Homo sapiens: one gene and its partner. The protein of the gene in region 1 purifies or fractionates together with the protein of each later gene. This does not show direct contact. Each region holds a gene or a part of one and is shown on either strand. Other genes may lie near its edges.

Region 1 (6,859 bases):
TTCGCCGCTGGAATGGGGGAAGTGCTTTCACAGTCAAGGATGTGGCCTTCCTGTGAGCTATTTCACATACCTGCATTGTAAATTCATGAGAGCGAACAGTCTTTGTGCAGCACAAATTAATGCAACAGTTTAACACAAACAATTCAAATAGAAGACTGTCCTTCAAGGAAAGAAAAGTGAAGAAATGTGGTTAATATTTGTCTTCTAAACTTGAGGGAACTCTTATGCCGTTGCCTACCATATTTGTTCTAGGATTTCTTCCATCTCGCCCAATACTGAATATAGAGCATGAGCAGCCAGATCATATAAAAGTCATTACATGGCCGAGAAAAATGTGAAATTGGTCTCAGTGCCAAACATTTTGGTAGTAAAACATCTTAAGGAAATAATACAAAAATGTTTTAACAGCCAGGTGCAGTGACGTGCACCTGTGGTCCCAGCTCCTTGGGAGGTGGAAGCAGGAGGATTGTTTGAGCCCAGGAGTTCAAGTCCAGCCTGGGCAACATAGGGAGGCCATGTCTCTAAAAAATATTAAAAATGACATCTTTTAACAGCCTGATTGACCATTAGTAGTGGTGATGTATGTACAGTAAGGCTCATCTCACCTCAAACTCTTTGATGTGGAATTCTAGTTTGACAGCAGTTTGCATCTGTGTACATTTTCCTTAGCAGTGTAGGTTGCTTTTCTGAGTCTTGCAAATCATTTTTACTCAGAAAATTTACAAAGAGGAATCTGAGGTTTGGAAGAGAAAAGGGAAGGAAAGTGGCAAAATGGAAGTGAAGTTTTTAAGTGAATCCTGGGAGGAGGCAGAGGAAGCTAACACCCACAGAGAGAGCTGAGGGTGATAGCCTTGTATCTAGAGCAACGCCCAAACAGCAGTGCAAATCGATGATTACTGAGGGCATCCTTGAGGCATTAGTGGGACCGAAGAGGTGGATGTTACCCACTTCCAGCCTAAAATTAAAAGGACATTGAATATTTGGGTGACAGTTTAGATGTAGGAAAAAAAAAAAAAAAAAAAAAACGCCTCTTTGTGTGTGTATTCTGTACCAGGAAGCAGATAATAGAAATCCTGCATATCTCATTCAAATGCCAAGGAATGGTAATCCCTCAAGGCTTCTAGAGAACAAAGGGTGTTAAATGGGAGTTAATTTTGTCATACTCATGACCCTTATGACTAATTTAAAAGGTAAGATTGCCATAACAGCCTTTTTATTTGTGAGGGTCTCCCTTCATCCTGGTTCTCCCCATCATTTTCTCACAAGGAGCTTTTGTTCCTCATCTGTAAATGATCCTTATCCTACAGGAGGGGGTTGTGAAAACCTGGCTCAGGACAGATGGGGAAGAATTCGTATATTTTAGTACCCCTGAATTAAAGCATTATACTTAGGCCTAATTGTTATTGACTAAACAAGAAAATAAGATGTTAATCCCTAACAGATACTTCAGTTGTTAGAGACTTCATATTTTTGGAAAACTATTGAAAAGTTTAAGAAAATCCCACAAACTTTCAATTTGGAGTTCTCATTATCTCATTAAATGAATAGCACTGCATATAATTAAGCTCCCAAGCAGGTTTAAGATTTGGGAGATGTGCAAATACAGATCACCATGTGTTCATTCACTATTTGGTAGTCCCTCAGAATGGATTTCAGTGACTCTGTGTTTTAAGAACTCTTAAAATTCTCCTCCCGTTTTTTTGGCAGAGAGCCAATGAAACATTACGGTATTAGTTCATTTTCTTCTTGCTTGTCTTGCAGTAGTTTATAATGCACTGTGTTATTGAAGAACAAATGTATGAACATATCTTGGAAATAATATTTGTCAAGCATTAACTCAAAGATCTTTACTACCTTTACAGAAAAAAAAAATAGCTCTTTTCTTTTTCCTTTTGCAGGAGAAAAACCCTACAAATGTACATGGGAAGGGTGCACATGGAAGTTTGCTCGGTCTGATGAACTAACAAGACATTTCCGAAAACATACTGGAATCAAACCTTTCCAGTGCCCGGACTGTGACCGCAGCTTCTCCCGTTCTGACCATCTTGCCCTCCATAGGAAACGCCACATGCTAGTCTGATTGCCTCTGTGTCCTGCCTCAGCGTGACTCCCCACTCACCTGGCTCTCTCTCTGTCCTGCCTCCCATTATCTAACACATTTTTTACATGTACATTTTAATTTGATTCAGCTGGTCTGAATCTCTGAATTTATATCATCCAAAACTTCCATATGGTCAGTAGTAGATGTTCTCTAATCCTCCCTCTCCTTACCACGGGTCAGACCTAAAGAATGTGAACACTTTTTTTTTTTTTTCTGGGGATGCTAAGCAAACCCTTCTTACAGATACGTTTAATGTAATAAGAACAAGGGAACATGTAAACTAACATAACCAATTGTCAGTTCTCCATGTATTCCTCAAAAGAATGTCAGAGTAAATGTATTAGAAATACAGTATCCAGACTGCTAGTCCTTGCCAGAGACATTCTTACCTCTGCCCTGTGATAATATTTTATGCTTGACAGTGAAAACAAGTGTGGCCCCTTGCACCGGTTAGCTAGAAGTACAGCCAGATTTCAAGCTAGTGCAGTCACCTCTTCCGTCATTCTTCACAAATCTTGTCAACCTGGATCTTAGACTTCATCTGAATCGAGTTCTTTGCCCTCCTTTGTGCCTGCAGCTCATATGGAGGTCTTTGCCACCAATGGGAGATGAGCCCAAACTTTCGATCTAGGTGGGTGATGTGTAGCAGTTCAAGGGAAGGGTGCTGTGTTTTCATAGCATGGAGTCGGAGGAGAGGGCCATTTAGCAGGGGGAGCAGAAGAGGCAATTCCTCCTGGGCTAGGGGTTGTCAGTGAGGTTTCAACATTTTGTTAGCTGTGTGCAGCATTCCCAGAGCTTCAGTCTCTGTGCATACTCAGCTTTGTAGAACCATGCTGCAAAGCCATATACCGATGGGGTTATCCATGCAACTATCTCCATTCCTACAATGTCCTTAATATGAGATCATCAAACATTGATAGTAGGGACTCCATGGAATATTTGCCCAGTAATGGTAAGAAATCTTTCGGGTAAGAGTATGGATGGTTCTTCTTTTACCCAATCTGCTTATAGCTTTTTTTGTAAACAGGGAAATGTTGAGTGGTACTTGTATTCCCTTATCAAATTAATCACATAGCTTTTATACAGAAACTCTTCCTGTGTGAGCTGTTAAGGTGCCAAATTGGCTGTCATTTGTATTCATGACACATACCATAAAGCATCTGCTAATGCTTTAATGGATTGATTCAATTAAGACCTGAGTGACACTATTTGTAAATATAACTAGTTGTGAAGCACACATACCTTTATTTTGGGAATTTATGAGAAAATATAGAAAACCACAGATCAGGGATTCATATATGTAGCTCAAAAATTCCCAAAAGTTTACTGTTAGAGTTGGCAATTTCCTATCACTATTTCAGTGTCAGAACAAACTGAAAATAATGGCTCGTGTTTATGTTGAAGATAAATAGCACCATTATTGGGGGAAGTTATTCAAAAGCAGGCTTTTGAGCACCATAGTCTAAATGCCAATAAAAATAATTCATACATAGAAATGTCATTGGTCCTGAATTTGAAGAAAGTGAGCAACAGTAGTTAAATGTGGGTGCATATAACCAAATTCCCCTTCATCAAGAATGGAGGAGAAGAGAGAAGAATGAAATCCTGAAGATTCATCCCAGCCGCAACTCAGGATCCAACACAACTTTAACTGGGAGGAATACATTGTTTGATCATTTTTAAAACATCTGTGAATGAGTGATTCCGGAGGCCTGTGAATTGTGTGGGGAGCTTGCTTTGATGGCACTGTGTTAATAAAAGTTGTAGGGACTGTGCACCTAAGAGGCTAAGAGGTCCCACTCATCCGCCCTGTGAACCAGCTGTAAAGAAATGTAGTTAAGAAATGCAAAGAAATGTGTTATCTTGGCACTTGGGTTTGATTTTCCTTTTTTTAAAGCACTGCAAAACTTCTTTAGGATACTAAAACATCCTAATTGGGCTGTTTTTTTGTTTTGTTTTGTTTTTCAGCTAAAGGCAAAGATAATTTTTTTTTCAGCTGAAGTTTTTCTTTTTTGCAACTATGACATGAATTGAGTGATAAAATGGCTCTTTGAAAAGTAGATATTGTCTGTATTGTAAATGCTTAGTCATATTCATGGCAAAGTGTTCATTTCTTGAGATGGTTCTTTCACAACACACAAGAATCAAGATGGAACGCAAGGAAAATCTTTTTGTTTTGACCGAGGTAACCAGTTTATGTGTGTTCCAATCCATAGAGAAGTGGGGGAAAGGGCGAGAAAGGATCAGATTGATCTGGGATCAGCTTTGAGCCTGAGTTCAGTGAATAGCCTCATGGGCATCTCATGGAATTGATGCATTTGCTGTGGCATATTTAAATTTTGTTCAAAAGATTTGAAGCAAGACCTTGCAAAGACTCTTAACATTACTGTTCAGCTTGCTTAGATTGTGTTAACAGTTCATTTAACAAAGATCCGTTTTAACTCTGAACAAAAGCAACCCAGAGCGGCCATTCTCTATTCCCATGCTGGTCAATACGCTTTCATTACCAATTGGCCCTTACCAAACTTTTCTTATATATATATTTGTATTTTACTATGATAGTTGAGAAATTTAGCCTCTTAGTCATTTTTAGCTGTTATTGTGGAAGACCTCAAATACAAGATTAGATGCCCTTGAACATGTTTTAATGATGTGTGTCATGTTACTATCAATGGTGATTTCAATCGCAATATTTTAAATTGATGAGAATGATTTGTAAACATGAAGTTACTATTACGTAAATTCTGTTTGTTATAGAGTTTCTTCAGTTGTTACCCAAGTGTCATCCTAGAGAAGTCAGAAGAATCAGAATCCATCGTATTTTAGAGTTATGTGAATCTACATCATAAATGGGCATTAACATTCTAAATTGCTTGGTTTGGAGAATGTGTTAGCAGCATAGCTATATTCAACTAGGGAGATGCTAAATACACAGAAGTTTCAAGAGCCTTGGAACAGAATTACAGGGGAACTATATATGTATATGTATATTTTATTAAACACCCATCTGCACTATCAGTATTGCACTAATGTGGAATTTGAAAGACTATTTTGCTGATACTGTATATATGCGCATCATTCCTGATTAGATTGTTGTAAAGACAATCTGAAAGATCTAAGGTTTTAAAATAATTTGGTTTGAAAATATACAGTTGTCTTGAAGGAATTGCTGTCATACATGAAGTTGCTCCGAGCTGTCTTTATTCTCTTCTTGGTCAAGGTTAACAATTGCTAAATGATCGCAAATTCACCTAAACAATACATTTACAAAGCCATCTTTACATGCATTAAACGAGGGCTACAACAATATTGTTTTACAAATACTAGCACTTTTTTTTCTGTTATGTACTTAGTGTTAGAGGGTCAAAATAATCTTTCTGCTTAGCATCTCTTAAACCATACCTGCAAATATAGCAGGATTATTACATTTACAGTACTTTAATACTTGTATAAACTATGCAGAAATTTTTAATAAAGTGTAATATATTTTATAAGCTAATAAGACTGAATGGGTAAAGGTTTTTAGCATGCATTAGTATACTTGCAGATACTGAAACATTTTGGTAATCTTTCTTACTAAAGATGTGAATGTTTAATGTACCTTCTCTGTTTCTACTCTGTAGTCCAATGGGAATTCAGTAATGACATTTTGTCATGTCAAACTGTGAACATAAATTTGTACTGTACAGTCCTCATATACTATATACAGTATGCAATATATATTATATACTTGTTAATAAAACCATCAGAATATTAAATGTGATCATGTGATTACTTCATATGCAGTGATCACTAGAGCAAAACTTACAGAGCAATGTAAGAACCCTTGCTTAGAACATTACTTACTCTGATGGGCAGTTATTGTTGATGGAGGGACAGAAAAATAGATCTAACTGGAAGATGAACTACCGGAATTAACTCAGCCCTCAAGCTATGTCCCTGGTTTTCTGAAAACAGCCAACAGGAAGTCTCCTAGGCTGAAATCATAAAACTGCAGACAATCCAGCAAAAATCTACAAACTCACCTAGTTCATTCTTGAAATACTTCTTGTATTTGTTATTTATGAACCCCTGCCTGCTTCCAAAAAGAACTTGCAGCATTTTGTATTAAAAGACGCATGTGTATAATACTTTAAACTTTTAGAGTAAAATATCAAGACTCTCATGTTGGGGAGTGGGGAACGAGGAACAGAACAATAACGCATTAAAGTAAATAACTCTGGATAAAAGTAATTATTTTTCAAGCCTTTAGTAACCATGTTCATGGACACTGCATTCTCCAGCATCACATGAAGAAGAAGTAGTTTCCGATAGGGATTTAGAGTTGAGTTTTGTTTTGTTTTGTTTTTGTTTTTGTTTTTGTTTTTGTTTTTTGAGACAGTCTCGCTGTGTTGCCCAGCCTGGAGTGCAATGTTGTGATCTCACTGCAACCTCTGCCTCTTGGGTTCAAGCGATTCTCCTGCCTCAGCCTCTTGAGTAGGCGGGACTACAGGTGCACGCCACTGTGCCCAGCTAATTTTTGTAATTTTAGTAGAGATGGGTTTTCACCGTGTTGGCCAGGCTGGTCTCAAACTCCCGACCTCAAGTGATCCACCCGCCTTGGCCTCAGAAAGTGCTGGTATTACAGGCATGAGCCACTGCACCCAGCCAAGGATTTAGAGTTCTTTTGTTTAAGGCAAAATGTAATTACCTCTCCTCTTCCCTCTGCATCCCTGCAATGTAATTGAAACTGAGGCTAGCTTGTTAGATCTCAGCAGT
Region 2 (7,040 bases), on another chromosome or scaffold:
TATGTCTTTACTCAAATGCCACCTTCTAAGTGAGGTCCTCTGTGACCTCCTCTCTACATTGTCCCATACACACATGCACACACATGACACTTCCTACTCCTCTTTAGTTTTCTCCTTGTCATTCCCTAACATACTCAAGAGTTTATCACTGTCTACCATATGATATAATTTACTTAGAAATGCTTGTTGTCCCCCACCAGAATAAAAGCTCCATGGGGGAGGACCATTGGTCTGTTTTGTTGATGGCCATTTCTCCAGTGCCATGACAGTGTCTAGCACAGAGAATATGCACAATAAGTGGGCGCTGGATGAAACAATAAAGGAATGAAAAAGTTGTTGAATAAATGAAATGACAAATGTCTGTACATTTTTATCCACACTGATGTTTTCTTTCTTTCTTTCTTTCTCCCTCTCTCCCAACCTAGATACTGGATAAACTACTAGATGGCGACTTAACAAGTGATCCTTCTTACTTCCAGAATGTTACAGGATGTAGTAATTACTATAACTTTTTGCGGTGCACGGTAATGACATTTTAAAAACCATAATAATGTTTGCTTAAAACTTTTGGCAAAACCGAACTTCCTTTGATTTGGGAAATATTATAGATGACTTTATACTAGACCAACATGTCCAAACTGTACCGCGTGATGTGGTCTACTAACCCATAGAATCTTTTCCTCATCAGTGTTGTATACGTTATAATCTGACCACTGAGAATGTGTGATATTTCAGATAACTCAAAACAACTTCTGATGAACATGATTTCCCCCAAGTAGAGCTTGTTATAGAGGCACTTTTGTGAAGGACACAGGCTGGGATTGGAGTTCTGGGTCTCAGGTCCCAGAGCTTCAAGTCTGTTTACGAGTCTCTTGAAAATGCCCACATTCTTTGTTCTGTACTTAAGACGCTTGGATAATCAAAACTGCCAAAGCCTTAATGAAAATATTTGCTTTGTCTTACTTTTAAGATGTTTAATGCATTTAGTATGGCCCTCACTTCAAGCCTTCTGGAATATTTCTCAAAGTATTCAAGTAGTTTGTTTCATAAAAGTAGGCCAAAGTTGATATCTTTTGTGTAGAATTAGTCAAACAGAAGGAGCCAAAGTAGGTGTTTGAATTTGTATAATCTTTGTCTAATGCTTATGACAATGCATTCTGTTTTTAAAATTGCCTGATTTATGAACTAGTTTGTAAATAAAGTATAACGTTAGTTTCAGTGGAATTCGCCAATGCTGCAGTTTTGGATTTAGATTCTACTAAGAGAAAAACATGTGGTAGACAAGACAGAAACAAAATTTGTGATGATACCTTTTTTTCTTTACAACAATATATTCACAGTTAGTAAAAATTGTTGATGAAGCACAAAGTTGTCAAACTCAAACTTTAACAGTTTTTTTAATCCTTGTGTAACTGTTTTTTTTTTAAAGCATTTACTCCTTTCTTTCAGTATAATGATTATTACAGAGACTTTATTGCAGTTTTTTTTTTAATAAGCTTCATGGACAACTTTTCTTCTGTCTTGTGTCCTTCATAAAGTATCATCTCTTTTCACATTTGACATATTTTCCCCTTTATTATAGTCAATCCAATTTTGTGTGTGTGTGCGGTTTTTTTTATTTTTTAATTTTATTATTATTATACTTTAAGTTTTAGGGTACATGTGCACAACGTGCAGGTTTGTTACATATGTATACACATGGACACAGGATGGGGAACATCACACACCGGGGACTGTTGTGGGGTGGGGGTAGGGGGGAGGGATAGCATTAGGAGATATACCTGATGCTAAATGACGAGTTAATAAGTGCAGCACACCAACATGGCACATGTATACATGTGTGTGGTTTTAATAAACAGCAGAACACAGAAAAGAAATTCTTAGCTTTAAATCCAGCACACCACCAACCTGGCCCTTGTGATCCATTTGACCTTCTTTCCAAAGAGCCACCAACAAGGAGTGAATTGATTTTGATAATCTCATCTCTTTTGTTTTCTCTCTCTTTGCCTCTAGTGGGGTTGCTAATGGGAGTCACAGATTGCAAAAGATTAGTTTCTGCAAAGGAAAATCCTGTATTTGCAAATTGGGTATTTTAAGAGTATTTTAAGGGTATTTCAGATTTCTAATTAGTAAAAAGATTCCACCTAAATTATCTCAAAACCTCCGAGTTAAAATTTCAAGAATGGCGACAAGTTAATAGTCCCGTCACGTTTCTCCATGTTGTATGTTATGAGAAATTCACAGCTTTTCCCAACATACTGTTCCTGCCACCAATCATGTTCCCTATGTCTTTCCAATGCCCCTTCTGCCAGGAACCTGAGGATCAGCTTTACTATGTGAAATTTTTGTCACTCCCAGAGGTGAGACAAGCCATCCACGTGGGGAATCAGACTTTTAATGATGGAACTATAGTTGAAAAGTACTTGCGAGAAGATACAGTACAGTCAGTTAAGCCATGGTTAACTGAAATCATGAATAATTATAAGGTAAGAGAGCTACTTCAGTTACTATTTTAGGAACTTTCAGATTACCCAGAGCAGAAGTGATTTGTAATTTGAGTCCTGCCTTTTTTTTTTTTTTAACTTTTATGATGTGTCATTAGCATAAATAACAGCCCCTTTCTTTGTTTGATTCCAATTCAAAGTTTTATATTGTTCCTTTTAATTTAACCACTTTTGCCGTTGTGGTGACTTATACCTGTAATCCCAGTGCTTTGGGAGCCTGAGGCGGGTGGATCACCTGAGGTCAAGATTTTGAGACCAGCCTGGCCAACATGGTGAAACCTTCTCTCTACTAAAAAATACAAAAACTAGCTGGACATGGTGGCGGGTGCCTGTAATCCCAGCTACTTGGGAGGTTGAGGCGTGAGAATCACTTGAACCCGGGAGGCAGAGGTTGCAGTGAGCCAAGATCGCAACATTGCACTCCAGCCTGGGCAACAGAGCAAAAACTCTGTCTCAAAAAAATAAAAATAAAATAAAATAATTTAACCACTTTCCCCTGATTATTCCTTAAAATGAAATTCCCTTTGGCACACACCACTTCTCATCCTTTCTTGAGAAAGGAAGAGTTGCAGAGCCAAAAAGATGACTGGCCGTGTGTAAGAGCCAGATTTCTCTTATGTGTTGCTTTGTTACATGAATCCCAATGACGTCAGGGATAAATGAAATCAACTGGTTATTCTGAAAATGCATTTTGCCTAATGGTTGTATTCATTCACTTTACCCAATCACAGTGTTTTGAGTCTCTCCTTAGGGTGTGAGGTTGAAATGATGAATGAGAAAGGGTCCCTGTTTGGAAGTAGGTCAAGTCAAGCCATTGTGCTGTCTGGTTGAAATGCTCTGCCTTTGCTGCCAGTGGAGGTGCCAGTGGAGAGTGAGGTCACAGAAAAGGAGCCCTGGAGGTTCAGGCAAAGAAGACATGGGCCCTGGAACTCCCACTGGGAAGGAGGACACCAAGAGCAAATGACATGGGGAAAGTCAGCCTGTGTATTATTTCTTTCCTGGTACTACGCTCTCAGCTCCTCCTCTGGTCCTCCAGTGCTGTTAGCCTTTGCCCAAGGGATCGTCTCTAGGGCAACTCCGAAGGATGCCTGTACTGATGACTGGGGAGACCACCACTGAGTGATCCACTTCCTCCCTATATCCTGTTTTGAATGAACAAAAAACAGGGCAGTCGGCAGCCCATAGGATTTTTGTATGAATTAGAATAAAGGCATCCTCTCCTCAAGATACTTTATTTCGATCTTTCAGAAATTGTCCTGATATACTGCCTTAGTTAAAACCAGACTCTTTACTGCCATTTGCTGGCATGCTGAATATTCATTTCTACAATGTGTATATTAGGAATGGTGTGTCTTAGGATTGTTCAGTGCACAATCTGCAATACTATCCAGGCAGTCCCTGGCCAATGCACCCTAACTAGACTGTGGTTTAGAATATGCCAGACCTAGGAGGCCCATTTCTGGGTCCTGCTTCTAGTACAGTGTTGGACACGTAACCATTGTTGAAAATAGTTTAAGACCAATTATATGCCAAGTCTACAAACCCATTATAAACCTGCAAAACTTGATGAAATACTTACTTTCTTGGAAAGAAAGAGTCTAACTAGGTCAGGCCAGCATTTCAGCCATCCTTGTGTTTGGTTTTCTTGGGGACATGTAGTGGCCCTTAGTGCTTGCTGCTTCAAGACTTCTCAGAGGACCTCCAGAAGGCACTGCTGTTTGTCCTCTCCTCTGAGCTCTCAGAACGCGTTGTCTTTACCCCCATAGGTGTACATGGCACACTCTAACGTGCAGACTCTCAGTCTGACACCCATACCACCACCAGCCTGGAGCAGATGTCAGGAATGAATGAATGATTAGTGCTGTATCAAAAATATATCTATAAACCTGTCCATAATCCATTAGGTGCTTATTATCCACAAATTTATTAAACCAAAAAGAGGTTAGCGTTCATGTCTTAAAGATGATGTTCTGTAATGTGATGTTAAGGAATGGAACGAGTGAATTTTTTTGAGAGGAGAGCAGATAAGTTTGATATGTGTTATTTGTGCCCTTGGGAGATATATTTTCTCACTGTACACACTTTTTTTTTTTTTTTTTGAGATAGAGTTTTGCTCTTGTTGCCCAGCTGTAGTGCAATGGTGCGACTGGCTCACTGCAACCTCCACCTCCTGGGTTCAAGCAATTCTCCTGCCTCAGCCTCTCAAGTAGCTGGGATTATAGGCATGTGCCACCATGCCCAGCTAATTTTGTATTTTTAATAGAGATGAGTTTTCTCCGTGTTGGTCAGATTGGTCTCAAACTTCTGACCTCAGGTGATCCGCCCACCTCGGCCTCCCAAAGTGCTAGGATTGCAGGCATGAACCACCGCACCTGGCCTCACTGTACAAATTTAACTAGAATATGATTCCTTTCTCAGCCATGTGAGGGTAAGGTGGGACAAACAGCTTACCTGATGACATAAACTCTCCTTATGTTTTGACTGATAAAGGAGAATATATTGATTAGAGGTGATCCTGCATTTTGATATTTAAACTTCTCTGTCCCTCTTGCCCATGTATCCTAAACTTACCACTATGAATTCCAATAAAATCAAAATCCAGTATTTTCTAAACTTTTCTTTTCTTTTTTGAGACAGAGTTTCACTCTGTTGCTCAGGCTGGAATGCAGTGGCACGATCTCGGCTCACTGCAACCTCCACATCCCGGGTTCAAGTGATTCTCCTGCCTCAGCCTCCTGAGTAGCTGAGATTACAGGCACATGCCACCATGCCTGGCTAATTTTTTTTCCGTATTTTTAGTAGAGACAGGGTTTCACCATGTTGCCCAGGCTGATTTCAAACTCCTGACCTCAGGTGATCCACCCGCCTCGGCCTCCCAAAGTGCTGGGATTACAGGTGTGAGCCACCGTGTCTGGCATAAACTTTTCAACTCTGAATCGGTTGCCAGAAAAAGAAAAGAGTTTAGTGGTATAGATAAACCATATTTCCATAAAGAAACAGAACAAAATATGCCACCAAAAAGTGGCTGCTGCTAAAACAGACAGCATGTTCACTCACGCAGCTGGCAAAGCGCTTGGGATAGTGATTATCTTTGGCTTGTCTGTTAATGATGTTGAACCTCAGTGTTCAGAACGGGAATCAGAACAACCTAGGTTGGCTTAAAACGTTAGTACCATTAAAGTCATATTTATGTAAGACTCGGTACTAATTTGTCATAGAAAATAGCATGCCTGTTTCTATTCATAGGAACTAGAGGTCTTTTTCCAGTACTGGGTTCATTTTGGCCAATGTGGAGCATCTCTGATGGTTGAAGGAAGACCTTCCTGGGTTTCTGGAATTACGTTTTCATGTAGTTTCTGTATAAAAATTAGCTTCTCTGTAAACTACGTTAGTTTCTATGTAAGCTACGTGAAAACATAATCCTTTTCTTACAGTGATATACAGGAGATGCATACTCAAAAGTCATTTTCCTTTCAGTAATTTCAGATGTTTGGGTGGTAAATTGAAATATCATATTGGCAGTTTCAAAAATAACTAGAAAGAGAAACAATCTGTTGGGCTATTTGAATTCTTTATGACTGAATGAAGTCAAAACATGATCAGGACTTTTAGGAGTTAGCTGGTTAATAGAGTATGGTGGTTATGAACATGTTCTTAAGTTGCATATCTTGAGTTTGAGCTCTGGTTACACCAGTCACTGGCTATGCTCCTTTGGGAGAGGAAACTTAAACTCTCTGCGCTTTGGCTTCCTTGTCTATAAAACAGGAATAAAAACAGTATTTATGTGTGAGTTTCTGTGAGGTTTAAATGAGATTATATATGTAAACACACTTAGAAGAGTGCCTGATGGTTAGAAGGTGCTTATTTATATATATATAAGCTATTACCAAAAATGTTCAACAAATTTTGTGAAAGTCTTTAAGATCTTGCTACATTCAAAAGTTATACAAGAAACCCTGGAAAACACAAAAATAAAAAAGAATGGACAGGCTTCCAGTTTCCATTCCAGTGTGTAAGAAGCTTAGAAGTCTCCACTCCATTGTAACAACAGTAAAAAGCCAAACAAACTGAAATATAATCAAGAACTCTTTTTAGATTTGTTGAAACTGAGGTCACAGGGCAAATTGCTGCCCTCCAAAATTAGAGAGAGAGATGAATATAGGGAGTCAAAACTTAACAGGAGCAAACCTGTAAGTAGAACCCTCCATGGAAACAAATGGTGAGGAAGGGAAACCTGAACAGTAATTGGTAAATTACTAGAGGCTCCATAGGGACAAGTCTGAGAGTTTAAAACACCATGGGTGGGGAGAGGACTCAGCCAAAGGTCACTTGTAAATGACCTTTATTATGTTGAGGGACTTTTCTTGTATACCCAGACTGTTGAGTGTTTTTATCAAGAAAGGATGTTGGATTTTGTTGAATACTTTTTGTGTCAATTGAGATGATCATGTGGTTTTGTCTTTCAGTCTGTGATGTGTCACTTTGATTAACGTACCTATGTTAAACCAGTCTTGCATGCTAAGGGTAAATCCCACT

What was found. The genes of interacting proteins can lie anywhere in the genome.
Region 2: the proteins of KLF3 (region 1) and CPVL purify together in Homo sapiens (affinity purification with mass spectrometry; 2 studies listed by BioGRID and IntAct, with this or other methods). This does not show direct contact.

Annotation. Positions count from the first base shown.
Region 1 is NC_000004.12:38,695,184-38,702,042, forward strand, and holds the end of KLF3 (Krueppel-like factor 3), read left to right. Parts: intron 1-1,898; coding exon 1,899-2,080; 3' UTR 2,081-6,334; downstream 6,335-6,859. UniProt on the Homo sapiens protein: Binds to the CACCC box of erythroid cell-expressed genes. May play a role in hematopoiesis.
Region 2 is NC_000007.14:29,059,507-29,066,546, reverse strand, and holds part of CPVL (probable serine carboxypeptidase CPVL isoform b precursor), read left to right. Parts: intron 1-425; coding exon 426-524; intron 525-2,312; coding exon 2,313-2,486; intron 2,487-7,040. UniProt on the Homo sapiens protein: May be involved in the digestion of phagocytosed particles in the lysosome, participation in an inflammatory protease cascade, and trimming of peptides for antigen presentation.